Homo sapiens: one gene and its partners. The protein of the gene in region 1 interacts with the protein of each later gene in a pairwise test. Each region holds a gene or a part of one and is shown on either strand. Other genes may lie near its edges. The genes, in order: CAT, MTARC2 and IDI1.

What was found.
Region 2: the proteins of CAT (region 1) and MTARC2 come close enough for resonance energy transfer, tested with the Homo sapiens proteins (one large-scale study listed by BioGRID).
Region 3: the proteins of CAT (region 1) and IDI1 come close enough for resonance energy transfer, tested with the Homo sapiens proteins (one large-scale study listed by BioGRID).

What each region holds. Positions count from the first base shown.
Region 1 is NC_000011.10:34,469,864-34,472,640, forward strand, and holds the end of CAT (catalase), read left to right. Parts: intron 1-1,094; coding exon 1,095-1,178; intron 1,179-1,504; coding exon 1,505-1,570; 3' UTR 1,571-2,197; downstream 2,198-2,777. UniProt on the Homo sapiens protein: Catalyzes the degradation of hydrogen peroxide (H(2)O(2)) generated by peroxisomal oxidases to water and oxygen, thereby protecting cells from the toxic effects of hydrogen peroxide.
Region 2 is NC_000001.11:220,751,283-220,754,932, forward strand, and holds part of MTARC2 (mitochondrial amidoxime reducing component 2 isoform a precursor), read left to right. Parts: intron 1-47; exon of another isoform or gene 48-127; coding exon of another isoform or gene 128-129; intron 130-3,650. UniProt on the Homo sapiens protein: Catalyzes the reduction of N-oxygenated molecules, acting as a counterpart of cytochrome P450 and flavin-containing monooxygenases in metabolic cycles.
Region 3 is NC_000010.11:1,046,199-1,050,515, reverse strand, and holds the start of IDI1 (isopentenyl-diphosphate Delta-isomerase 1), read left to right. Parts: upstream 1-1,396; 5' UTR 1,397-1,512; coding exon 1,513-1,652; exon of another isoform or gene 1,653-2,197; coding exon of another isoform or gene 2,198-2,252; intron 2,253-4,317. UniProt on the Homo sapiens protein: Catalyzes the 1,3-allylic rearrangement of the homoallylic substrate isopentenyl (IPP) to its highly electrophilic allylic isomer, dimethylallyl diphosphate (DMAPP).

The DNA of each region.
Region 1 (2,777 bases):
CCATGTTAACCAGGCTGGTCTTGAACTACTGACCTCAGGTGATCCACCCATCTTGGCCTCCCAAAGTGCTGGGATTTCGGGCGTGAGCCACTGCGCCTGGCCTAGGTTGTATGGGTTTTTTTCCCCGACAATAAGCAATTCTGTAATTCTTTGACAGTAACTGTGTGTCCTATAACTCAATTCAATTCTAACAGTAGCTCCTGGAGCTAGAGTCAGAACCCAAAGATTTAGGGGTCATTTCCCACTTTAGATAACAAATGAGGTACCCTGGCTATGCACACTTCTGCAGATTCTGACTGCAAATCAAACCCTTTCCTCAGGTTTGATAATTTGCTGGAAAGACTCATAGAACTCAGGAAAATGATTTACTTATGATTACCAATTTATTATAAAGAATACAACTCAGGAATAGACAAATGGAAGAGGGGCATGGGGGAAGGCCTCGGAGCTTCTGTGCCTCCCTGAGTGGACCACCCTTCTAGCTCCTGGATGTGTGCACTAATCCAGACACTCCCTGACCTTGCCAGTTGTGGGTTTTTCTGGAGGTTTTATGACATAGGCATGATTGATGAAATTATTGGCTATGGGTGATTGAATACAATCTCCAGCCCCTCTCCCATCCCTGGAGGTTTGGGGGTGGGGCTAGAAGTTCTAACCTTCTGATCGCGTGCTTGTTCTTCCTGGTGTGAGCCTCCATCAGGAATCTATGTAGGCCCCCATGAATCATCTTAGTAGTATATAAAAGACAGTACATTCGAAGGGTTTTAGATCTGTGTCAGGAATGGGGGACAAAGACCAAATAGTATTTTTAAAATTATACTGATTAGGTGTCATTTTCTTGCGCATTTCGGCAGAGGGACATAAGCTCAGTAAGTTAAGTGACCTATCCGAGGTTGCTCAGCCAGTATATGTCAGAGTGTTCACTGGACCTGCATCTTAACTCTGAGGCTGGCATTGTTAAACACCTGTAGTACTGCCTCCTGCTGAAACGTCTTTCCTCCCCTATGGAATAAACACTGGGAAACCACAGTCCCTGGGGAGTGATATAGTAGGGAGTTAGAGTAATGCTTGCATTTATTTTCCTTTGGCCTTAGGTCAAGAACTTCACTGAGGTCCACCCTGACTACGGGAGCCACATCCAGGCTCTTCTGGACAAGTACAATGCTGAGAAGCCTAAGGTAAGCTGGGAGCAGCCTGGCCATGCAGAGGCTGTGTGTGCTGGGTTGGAGTAGGCATGACTTAGTTACCACTTAGCATTACAGTCTGCAGGGGCCATTACCTGCCACTGTTAGATTTCTTAGGCAGCTGTGCAGAAATTCATTTGAGAGATAAAGAATTCACTGGCAAAACACATACTCTTCATTTTAGCGCTGGGCAATTTAAGACAGTTAAAGTGAATGAATTCTGAATTATTATTTTCATTTGCATACATATTAAAACTGAGTAAATATCACGTTGCTGCCCATGAGGTGATTAACCTGCTCATCTTGTTCTTTTAAAACAGAATGCGATTCACACCTTTGTGCAGTCCGGATCTCACTTGGCGGCAAGGGAGAAGGCAAATCTGTGAGGCCGGGGCCCTGCACCTGTGCAGCGAAGCTTAGCGTTCATCCGTGTAACCCGCTCATCACTGGATGAAGATTCTCCTGTGCTAGATGTGCAAATGCAAGCTAGTGGCTTCAAAATAGAGAATCCCACTTTCTATAGCAGATTGTGTAACAATTTTAATGCTATTTCCCCAGGGGAAAATGAAGGTTAGGATTTAACAGTCATTTAAAAAAAAAATTTGTTTTGACGGATGATTGGATTATTCATTTAAAATGATTAGAAGGCAAGTTTCTAGCTAGAAATATGATTTTATTTGACAAAATTTGTTGAAATTATGTATGTTTACATATCACCTCATGGCCTATTATATTAAAATATGGCTATAAATATATAAAAAGAAAAGATAAAGATGATCTACTCAGAAATTTTTATTTTTCTAAGGTTCTCATAGGAAAAGTACATTTAATACAGCAGTGTCATCAGAAGATAACTTGAGCACCGTCATGGCTTAATGTTTATTCCTGATAATAATTGATCAAATTCATTTTTTTCACTGGAGTTACATTAATGTTAATTCAGCACTGATTTCACAACAGATCAATTTGTAATTGCTTACATTTTTACAATAAATAATCTGTACGTAAGAACAGAGATGGTATTTTCTTTCTTTCGACTCCATATGTAACTGTAAACTGCTACCAGACTCTTAATTTGAACATCATCATTTTCAGATGTTTACCCTTAAAAATGGAAATGCCAGTATCTCGAGGACTCCATGTTATTTGTTTAAATCTATAGCCTTTGGACAGCCTTCTGAGACACTGATAAAATAGCAAATGCCCCAACTTTGAAAATTACTTAAATCTCTTGTCCATTTGCTCACTTACCTGTGATTGACTTTTTAAAACAAGGGCTCAGAACCACTGGTCACTTTCCTCTTCCTTCTTTTTAAAGCCCATATTTGCCTATCATGGTTGAAAATCACATGGAAGACTTTAAAGATGAGTTCTGAATACTAAATGAAAATTTGTTTTCCTTGAAAATCTTTATTCCGTTCATATTCAAAACCAGTTTGTGCCGGGTGTGGTGGCTCATATGCCTGTAAACCCAGCACTTTGGGAAGCCAAGGCAGGAGGATCACTTGAACTCAGGAGTTTGAGACCAGCCGGGGCAACATGGCGAAGCCCTGTCTGTACAAAAAATACAAAAATTAGCCGAGTATGGTAACG
Region 2 (3,650 bases), on another chromosome or scaffold:
GCACCCTAAGCATTGAGTGTTTAAAGTCCACCTGGCAGAATGCTGGCATTCGGTGCCTGGTGCAGTTGCTGGGAGGGCGTGCTTGTCCTCCCTGACCTTGGAAATCTCTGCTCTCCTTAGCAGCCATATGTGAGTTGATCAGTTTTATCTCTCTAAACCCTTACTGAAGCCAGTCCTTTATTTCTTCTGCACAAATGATGAACTGTTGGAGAAAGGAATCCCTTAAGTTTATTATTGTCCAGGGTGTTATTCCCTGCCCAATTCCTGCTGTTTTTCTCCTCCCACACTCAGTAGTAGAGTTCCTGCTTTCCCTCACTTTTCAGTCCTTCCTGCTCCCCAGGCCAGTTTGTAATTGAGAAATGATATTTTTTTCTGTTGTTTTGGGCTCCACTTACCCGTTGCTGTTGGTTGTTCGGGGCTCTATAGCTCTTTTGGGGAATCGGGGCTCCAGGCTTCTACACTGATCCCTCTACCACATACTCATGTTTTACCTGTGAATTCAAGGTGCTGGCTTTTAGTGTTGCAGACTAGGTTGGGGTAACTTGGTTATGATGAAATCTATGCTCCAGACTTATCTCTTCTTTCAGATCTGGCAGAATAGAACTAGTTATTCATTCACTGGGCATCATTTTGTGCACAAGAGGTGAAAAATAATATTGCCCAGGTTGACAGGGAAATGAGATGGTTGGGGTATGTTACAAATGGTAACCTTTTAACCTGTGATTGCTGTATTTGTCCTGTTCCAAAATTGGACTCCCTGTAAGTTGCCAGTTTTTCAGTGACAGTGATGAGTGGGAAACCTCTAGTGACAACTTCCCACTGTTAACCTCAGCAGTTAACACCTGTATTATTATACAACAGTCTGGAGCCACAGGCCAGGCTGTGAGCCACGGTGAAGGGCGACATTAATAAGGGATGAATGGGAGATGAGAAGATTCAGCCCATGGAGAAATAATGTCAGAAATAATGTGCAAACAGGTTTGCCACTCCTGTTTGGACATGGCTCTGGTTGTGTGCAGATCTCAAAGGGAGTCTTGTCTGGGGAAGGGGCATGTTGGAAGTTAAGGGTGAAGGCTTTAGTGAGGCTAACCAAAGAAATGTGCACCAAGGGACAAGGCTGGAAATAGGGAATAGGGCCCAGCCCTGTGAGGCATCTAAGTCAGTGGATGCCTGCCTATTTCACTGTAGCCCCATTCTCTGGGCAGACATCCTCAGATTTACAGAACCCAGCCCCAGGATGAGTGAGCCAGAGAACTGTGGGATCTAAAGACATCTTTGACCAGGCAGGATGGCTCACATCTGTAATCTCAGCACTTTGGGAGGCCAAGGAGGGAGGATTAATTGAGCCAGGAGTTCCAGACCAGCCAGGAGGTCCAGACCACAGTGGGACCCCATCTCTACAAAAAATAAAAAGATCAGTTGGGCGTGGTGGTGTGTGCCTGTAGTCCCAGCTACTCAGGAGACTGAGGCAGGAGGATCGCTTGAGCCCAGCAGTTCAAGGCTGCCATGAGCTAAGATCACGCCGCTGTACTCCAGAGCCTGGGTGATAGAGTGAGACCCTGTCTCCCTCTCTCTTGATATTAATTAAGTATAAATATATATAAATGAATAAATAATACACATATGCATATATACACTTAGGAAATGGTGGGCTGGGCACGGTGGCTCACGCCTGTAATCCCAACACTTTGGGAGGCCGAGGTGGGCAGATCATGAGATCAGGAGATCGAGACCATCCTGGCTAACACGGTGAAACCCTGTCTCTACTAAAAAAAAAAAAAAAAAAATACAAAAAATTAGCCGGGCATGGTGGCGGGTGCCTGTAGTCCCAGCTACATGGGAGGCTGAGGCAGGAGAATGGTGTGAACCCAGGAGGTGGAGCTTGCAGTTAGCCGAGATCGTGCCACTGCACTCCAGCCTGGGTGACAGAGTGAGACTCCGTCTCAGAAAAAAAGAAAAAAAAAAGAAAGAAAGAAAAAGGTGGTCTCCTCAGTGGGGTGGGGACTTGCTGCTACCCAGTGTCACCAGCTTTTTGGAAGCAGGTAGTCAAGACAGTTACTGGAATGCCTTTACACTGCCACACCATCATAATGCCAGTTAGCAGAGCACAGGCTGCCAGCCATTGTCTTCTGGTGTGGTTGCGGGGAAGGGACAGTTTAGCCAGCACCTGGAAAGGACTTTACGGATAAGGAGGTTGCAGATGTAAGACTATCTGTCAGGGTCAGGACAGGGCAGAGACGGAGCTCCCTGTGCTGGGATATTGGATGTCCTCCTGAGGTCTCCTCAGCCTTTCCCTGATGGCTCTGGTCATATTTTGGAATGTCTCCCTGGGAGGAGCCGCCCCTGCTTCTGGAAGGGGCTGTGCTTTTTATCCTCCTCACATTTGGAAAGCCTCTGGCTTTCAGACAATTTTTACTTATCAGTGCCTGCATTTTCCTCACCCGCTAGTCTGCAGATTCTATCTTCTTTCTAAAATAGTGATATTGGGCTAGGCACAGTGGCTCATGCCTATAATCCCAGTACTTTGGGAGGCTGAGGCGGCAGGTCACTTGAGGCCATGAGTTCAAGACCAGCCCAGCCAACATAGCGAAACCCCATCTCTACTAAAAGTACAAAAATTAGCTGGGCGTGGTGGTACACACCTGTAATCCCAGCTACCCGGGAGGCTAAGGCAAGAGAATCACTTGAACCAAGGAGGTGGAGGTTGCAGTGAGCTAGACTGTACCACTGCACTCCAGCCTGGCTGACAGAGTGAGACTCTGTCTCAAACGAAATGAAACAAAACAACTAAACGAAACAAAACAAAATGAAACTAAACTGTGATATTGAAATTTATTTTCCCTAGGAGTGGAAGATTTTTTTCTTTTTGGCAACACAGTCTTTTGTGTGGTACAGCCCCAACCTATATGCTAGGCTGTAGGTAAAAGCCTAACCAACTGGGCCTGGCCAGCTTCCCCTCACTCTTCAGCTCATCCCATAGAAATACAAAGTAAGAAAACCAAGTCCAGTACAGTGGGCTCTCTAGGAAATAAGTGGGATTCTTATCTAACATGTGACTTCTGTGTGTCTTTGTTCTCTATGTCAGAATGTGTGCATGAAGAGGAAAGGCTGTTTGGGAGGTTTCCTGATGTAGGACCCCCGCATGCCGCGGCAAGTTAAACAGAGCAGAGGCTGGCCTGGTTCCGCTTGGAGGCAGCAACATTGCAAGACCTTTGTCTCAGACTCAAACTCACTTGGCCAACCTCATCTTGTTCTACAACAAAAGGACCTGAAAGCTATTTTACTTCTCCCAGGGCCACAGAGACATATTTAACAGACCTGCAGAAGCTTCTAACCAAAGCAGAACCCCCAGACAAGCAGCAGGGTTGACTAAGCAGTGAGGGAGAGTCTCTGAGCCAGGCTCATGTTCTTGTTTTTGAAACTGGAGATTGCCATACATCAGCCAGACACTCTCCCAGAACTGTTTCCGCCAAATAAGCTCTTTCTGGGGTCACCAACTTTTAGACCCAAATCATTTGGCCAGACCTGGATAATTGTCTGGAAAATGATTGTTAGGTCCCAAGACGGGGTGGGTGGAGAGTTCTGAGGAAGTAGAAAGCTGGAGGGAAGCTGTTGGGAGGTGGAAGAGGATTTTCTGAGTGTGCCCTGGT
Region 3 (4,317 bases), on another chromosome or scaffold:
TTGGCCTTTAGAAGCTTAGTGATTTTTTTTTTCCTTGGCCAGAAGTATGCTTTAGGAACTTAATCCTTATTTTTTAGCCTCTGGTAAAATTGGTTTTGCTATACGTTGTTTCACTTAAAAGTCCTGATTCCCAAGAACGCACTGACAGCAGTGAGGACTTGCTGCGCATGCGGGAGGCCAGATTTTCTTATCTGTGTGAAGCCAGACATGAAAGAGATCTGTCAACACATAAAACAAAATCAAAGTCTGTTTTTTGTCTGGAAAAGATTTTTAATAAAAATATAACTTATGTTAGTGTCGTGTGTTTTTTAAGTGAATATTTTAATATGTTTAATTTCTATGTTAGTAAATAGCAGTAGTAAACAACAGTGAGCAAAAGCTTTTAGGTGTCCTCAGTACATTTTAAGAGAGTGCAAGCGTCCTGTGACCAAGAAGTTTGAGAACTGGTGCCCACCAGGTTCATCTCACAAGTTCAGTATTTTAAATTCCACACAAAAGGTAGAGGAAATAGCTGAATTCGCTTCAGCTGCGCATACATTTCACGATTATTTAAAAGTTTAGAGGGCTAGGCGCGGTGGCTCACACCCGGAATCTCAGCACTTCGGTAAGCTGAGCCAGGTGGATCACTTGAGGTCAGGAGTTCCAGACCAGCCTGACCAACATGCGGAAACCCGTCTCTACTAAAAATACGAAATAAGCCGGGCGTGGTGGCGCATGCCTGTAATTCCAGCTACTTGGGAGGCTGAGACGGGACAATTGCCTGAACCCGGGCGGCGGAGGTTGCTGTGAGCGGAGACTGCACCATTGCACTCAAGCCTGGGCAACAAGAATGAAACTGTCTCAAAAAAAAAAAATTTAGAACGTAGTCATGTACCTCGAAAGCGAACACTCCCAACATAGCGTGGAACACCCCACACCCCCGGCGACTTTGCTCCGCCTTGGTCCCGGTCGCAGACACCGCAGAAAGGCCATCGTTCTAGACATACGAGAACTCCCCGTGCAGCCAAACGCTGTAGTCCCAGCGGCGGAACTCGGGGGGGGGGAGGGGGGGGAGTGCCCAACCAGCCAGTCAGCAGTGACGTCCCGCCTTTCCTCCGTTTCCATTGGTCCAGCCATGCGGAGGTCGCTCCCATGGGACGCCGAGCTTCCGGCTGCAGGGCTTGGCGCCCGGGCGCTTTCGGATTGGGAGGGCTTCCTCCATGGAACGCGAGCCTCGAGACGTCTGACGTTAGGCACCGTTCGCAGCGCCTCGGGCTCGCACGGCAGGATCGAAAGCGTGATTGGCTGGCGGCGTCTGTGGTCTCGGGCACCGCCCAGTCGCGGGACGCTGCCTCTGCGGAACTGGGGGTGGGGCGTGTTGACCCCCTTAAAGGCGCCAGAGCCCGCGGTCACGGCTCAGGTTCCCGGTGCTTCGCGCGTCTGCCGTTGTCACAGGCCAGGGAGGTGGCACCACCAGGCGAAGCTTGGCGAGATTGTGTCGTCAAGCGCGTACGGGCGCCAATTGGCCGGGCGATGTGGCGTGGACTGGCGCTGGCGCGAGCGATTGGCTGCGCGGCCCGGGGGCGGGGCCAGTGGGCGGTGCGCGCCGCAGACTGTGCTCAAAGCGGGCGCCATCCGGGACCGGCGGTTGTCTGTGGCCGGAGGCTGATCAGGTACTGTGGACGGGCGGCGGAGTTCGGGAGACAGGGGCAGGGCGGCATCGGGGAGCTGCGGGACGGGGCGGGGAGGAGGCCCGAGGTCTGAGCCACCCGTGAGGTCTCGGCGCGGAGGCCTGGACAGCTGGGGGTGGCGGCGTTGGTCTCCCGAACTGGAGGGAGGCCGGGCCTTCCCGGGCTGTGGTGGGCGCCCGCGCCCCGTGGAAGGCGGAGGCGTGAGTCGGGGCGTCAGAGACGTTGCCATTCTTTGTCAGCGGAAAAGATCGTCGTCTGCGCACAGTCACCTGAGGTTTAGGAACTCGTGGAACTGGAAACCGAGTCGCAGGAGACTAAGAGTTGCGAGTCTCCCCTTAGAGAATTCAGAAACAAGCGTAGACAGCATCGTCAGAAACACGAGCGTGACGACACCGGCCTCCCCGTGCCGAGTCCACGCGTGTGACGCGGGTGCATACACCTGCGTCCGTGCAAGAGGGTGACAGCAACACACTCAAGGCGCTTCTCCTGGGAATGGAGCAGGAGAAGAGATGGGGAGCATCGCATAGATGGAACTAGACCTTTTTCTTGGGTTGGATGATGTGTTCCCGCGTCTACTACATGGTATTCTTTAAACGCATAAATAGACGTATTCATTTTATCTTGTGATTATGCAGCTTAGCTTTAAAATCTGAATTCTGAAAATCCTGAAAGAGCAATTGTCATTACAGCTGGGCGGTGGTGCACGCCTTTAATCCCAGCACTTTGGGAGGCGGAGTCGAAGGCTGCAGTGAGCCGAGATCGCGCCACTGCACTCCAGCTTGGGCGACAGACATAGCAAGACCCAGCCCCATCCCCCCGGAAAAAAAGTCATGTCAAAAAGTCTAGTAATTATGTAGTAACGAAACCTATCTTAGTGATCACCTAATATACAGTTGGCCTACTGTATCCTTGGGGTCCATATCCATGGATTTAACCAACTGCACATTATAAAATATTTGGAAAAAAATTTCATCTGTACTGAACATATACAGACTTATTCTGTAAACAATACAGCACAACTATTTATGTAGGATTTACATGTTTTAGATACTATAAGAGATCATCTACAGATGATAATTTAACGTTCGGCCCGCATCACTTAACAGGGATACTTTGGAGAAGTTCATTGTTAGGTACTTTCATCATTGTGGAAGCAGAGTGCGCTGACGCAGACCTAGACAGTGGAGCAGCTGGGCTGTGTGGTGTAGACAGACGGTGGAGCAGCTGGGCTGTGTGGTGTAGACAGTGGAGCAGCTGGGCTGTGTGGTGTAGACAAAGGACCAGACAGTGGAGCAGCTGGGCTGTGTGGTGTAGACAGTGGAGCAGCTGGGCTGTGTGGTGTAGACAGTAGACAGTGGAGCAGCTGGGCTGTGTGGTGTAGACAGTGGAGCAGCTGGGCTGTGTGGTGTAGACAGTGGAGCAGCTGGGCTGTGTGGTGTAGACAGTGGAGCAGCTGGGCTGTGTGGTGTAGACAGTGGAGCAGCTGGGCTGTGTGGTGTAGACAGTGGAGCAGCTGGGCTGTGTGGTGTAGACAGTGGAGCAGCTGGGCTGTGTGGTGTAGACAGTGGAGCAGCTGGGCTGTGTGGTGTAGACAGTGGAGCAGCTGGGCTGTGTGGTGTAGACAGTGGAGCAGCTGGGCTGTGTGGTGTAGACAGTGGAGCAGCTGGGCTGTGTGGTGTAGACAGTGGAGCAGCTGGGCTGTGTGGTGTAGACAGTGGAGCAGCTGGGCTGTGTGGTGTAGACAGTGGAGCAGCTGGGCTGTGTGGTGTAGACAGTGGAGCAGCTGGGCTGTGTGGTGTAGACAGTGGAGCAGCTGGGCTGTGTGGTGTAGACAGTGGAGCAGCTGGGCTGTGTGGTGTAGACAGTGGAGCAGCTGGGCTGTGTGGTGTAGACAGTGGAGCAGCTGGGCTGTGTGGTGTAGACAGTGGAGCAGCTGGGCTGTGTGGTGTAGACAGTGGAGCAGCTGGGCTGTGTGGTGTAGACAGACAGTGGAGCAGCTGGGCTGTGTGGTGTAGACAGTGGAGCAGCTGGGCTGTGTGGTGTAGACAGTGGAGCAGCTGGGCTGTGTGGTGTAGACAGTGGAGCAGCTGGGCTGTGTGGTGTAGACAGTGGAGCAGCTGGGCTGTGTGGTGTAGACAGTGGAGCAGCTGGGCTGTGTGGTGTAGACAGTGGAGCAGCTGGGCTGTGTGGTGTAGACAGTGGAGCAGCTGGGCTGTGTGGTGTAGACAGTGGAGCAGCTGGGCTGTGTGGTGTAGACAGTGGAGCAGCTGGGCTGTGTGGTGTAGACAGTGGAGCAGCTGGGCGGTGTGGTGTAGACAGTGGAGCAGCTGGGCTGTGTGGTGTAGACAGACAGTGGAGCAGCTGGGCTGTGTGGTGTAGCCAGTTGCTCTTAGGCTGTTTTTCCTGTTGCTTCAGGCCTAAATTTGGACAGTGTGTGACTGTGCTGAATAATGTGGGCAGTTGTAACACAACAGCAAGTATTTGTGTATCTAAACATAGAAAAGGTGATGTGTTGTGCTCCGATGTTACAATGGCTACAACATCATTAGCAATAGGAATATGTCAGTTCTGTTATAATTTTATGGAACCACTGTAGTATATGCAGTCTGTAGTGTACCGAAACACCATCATGTGACACATGTATGTA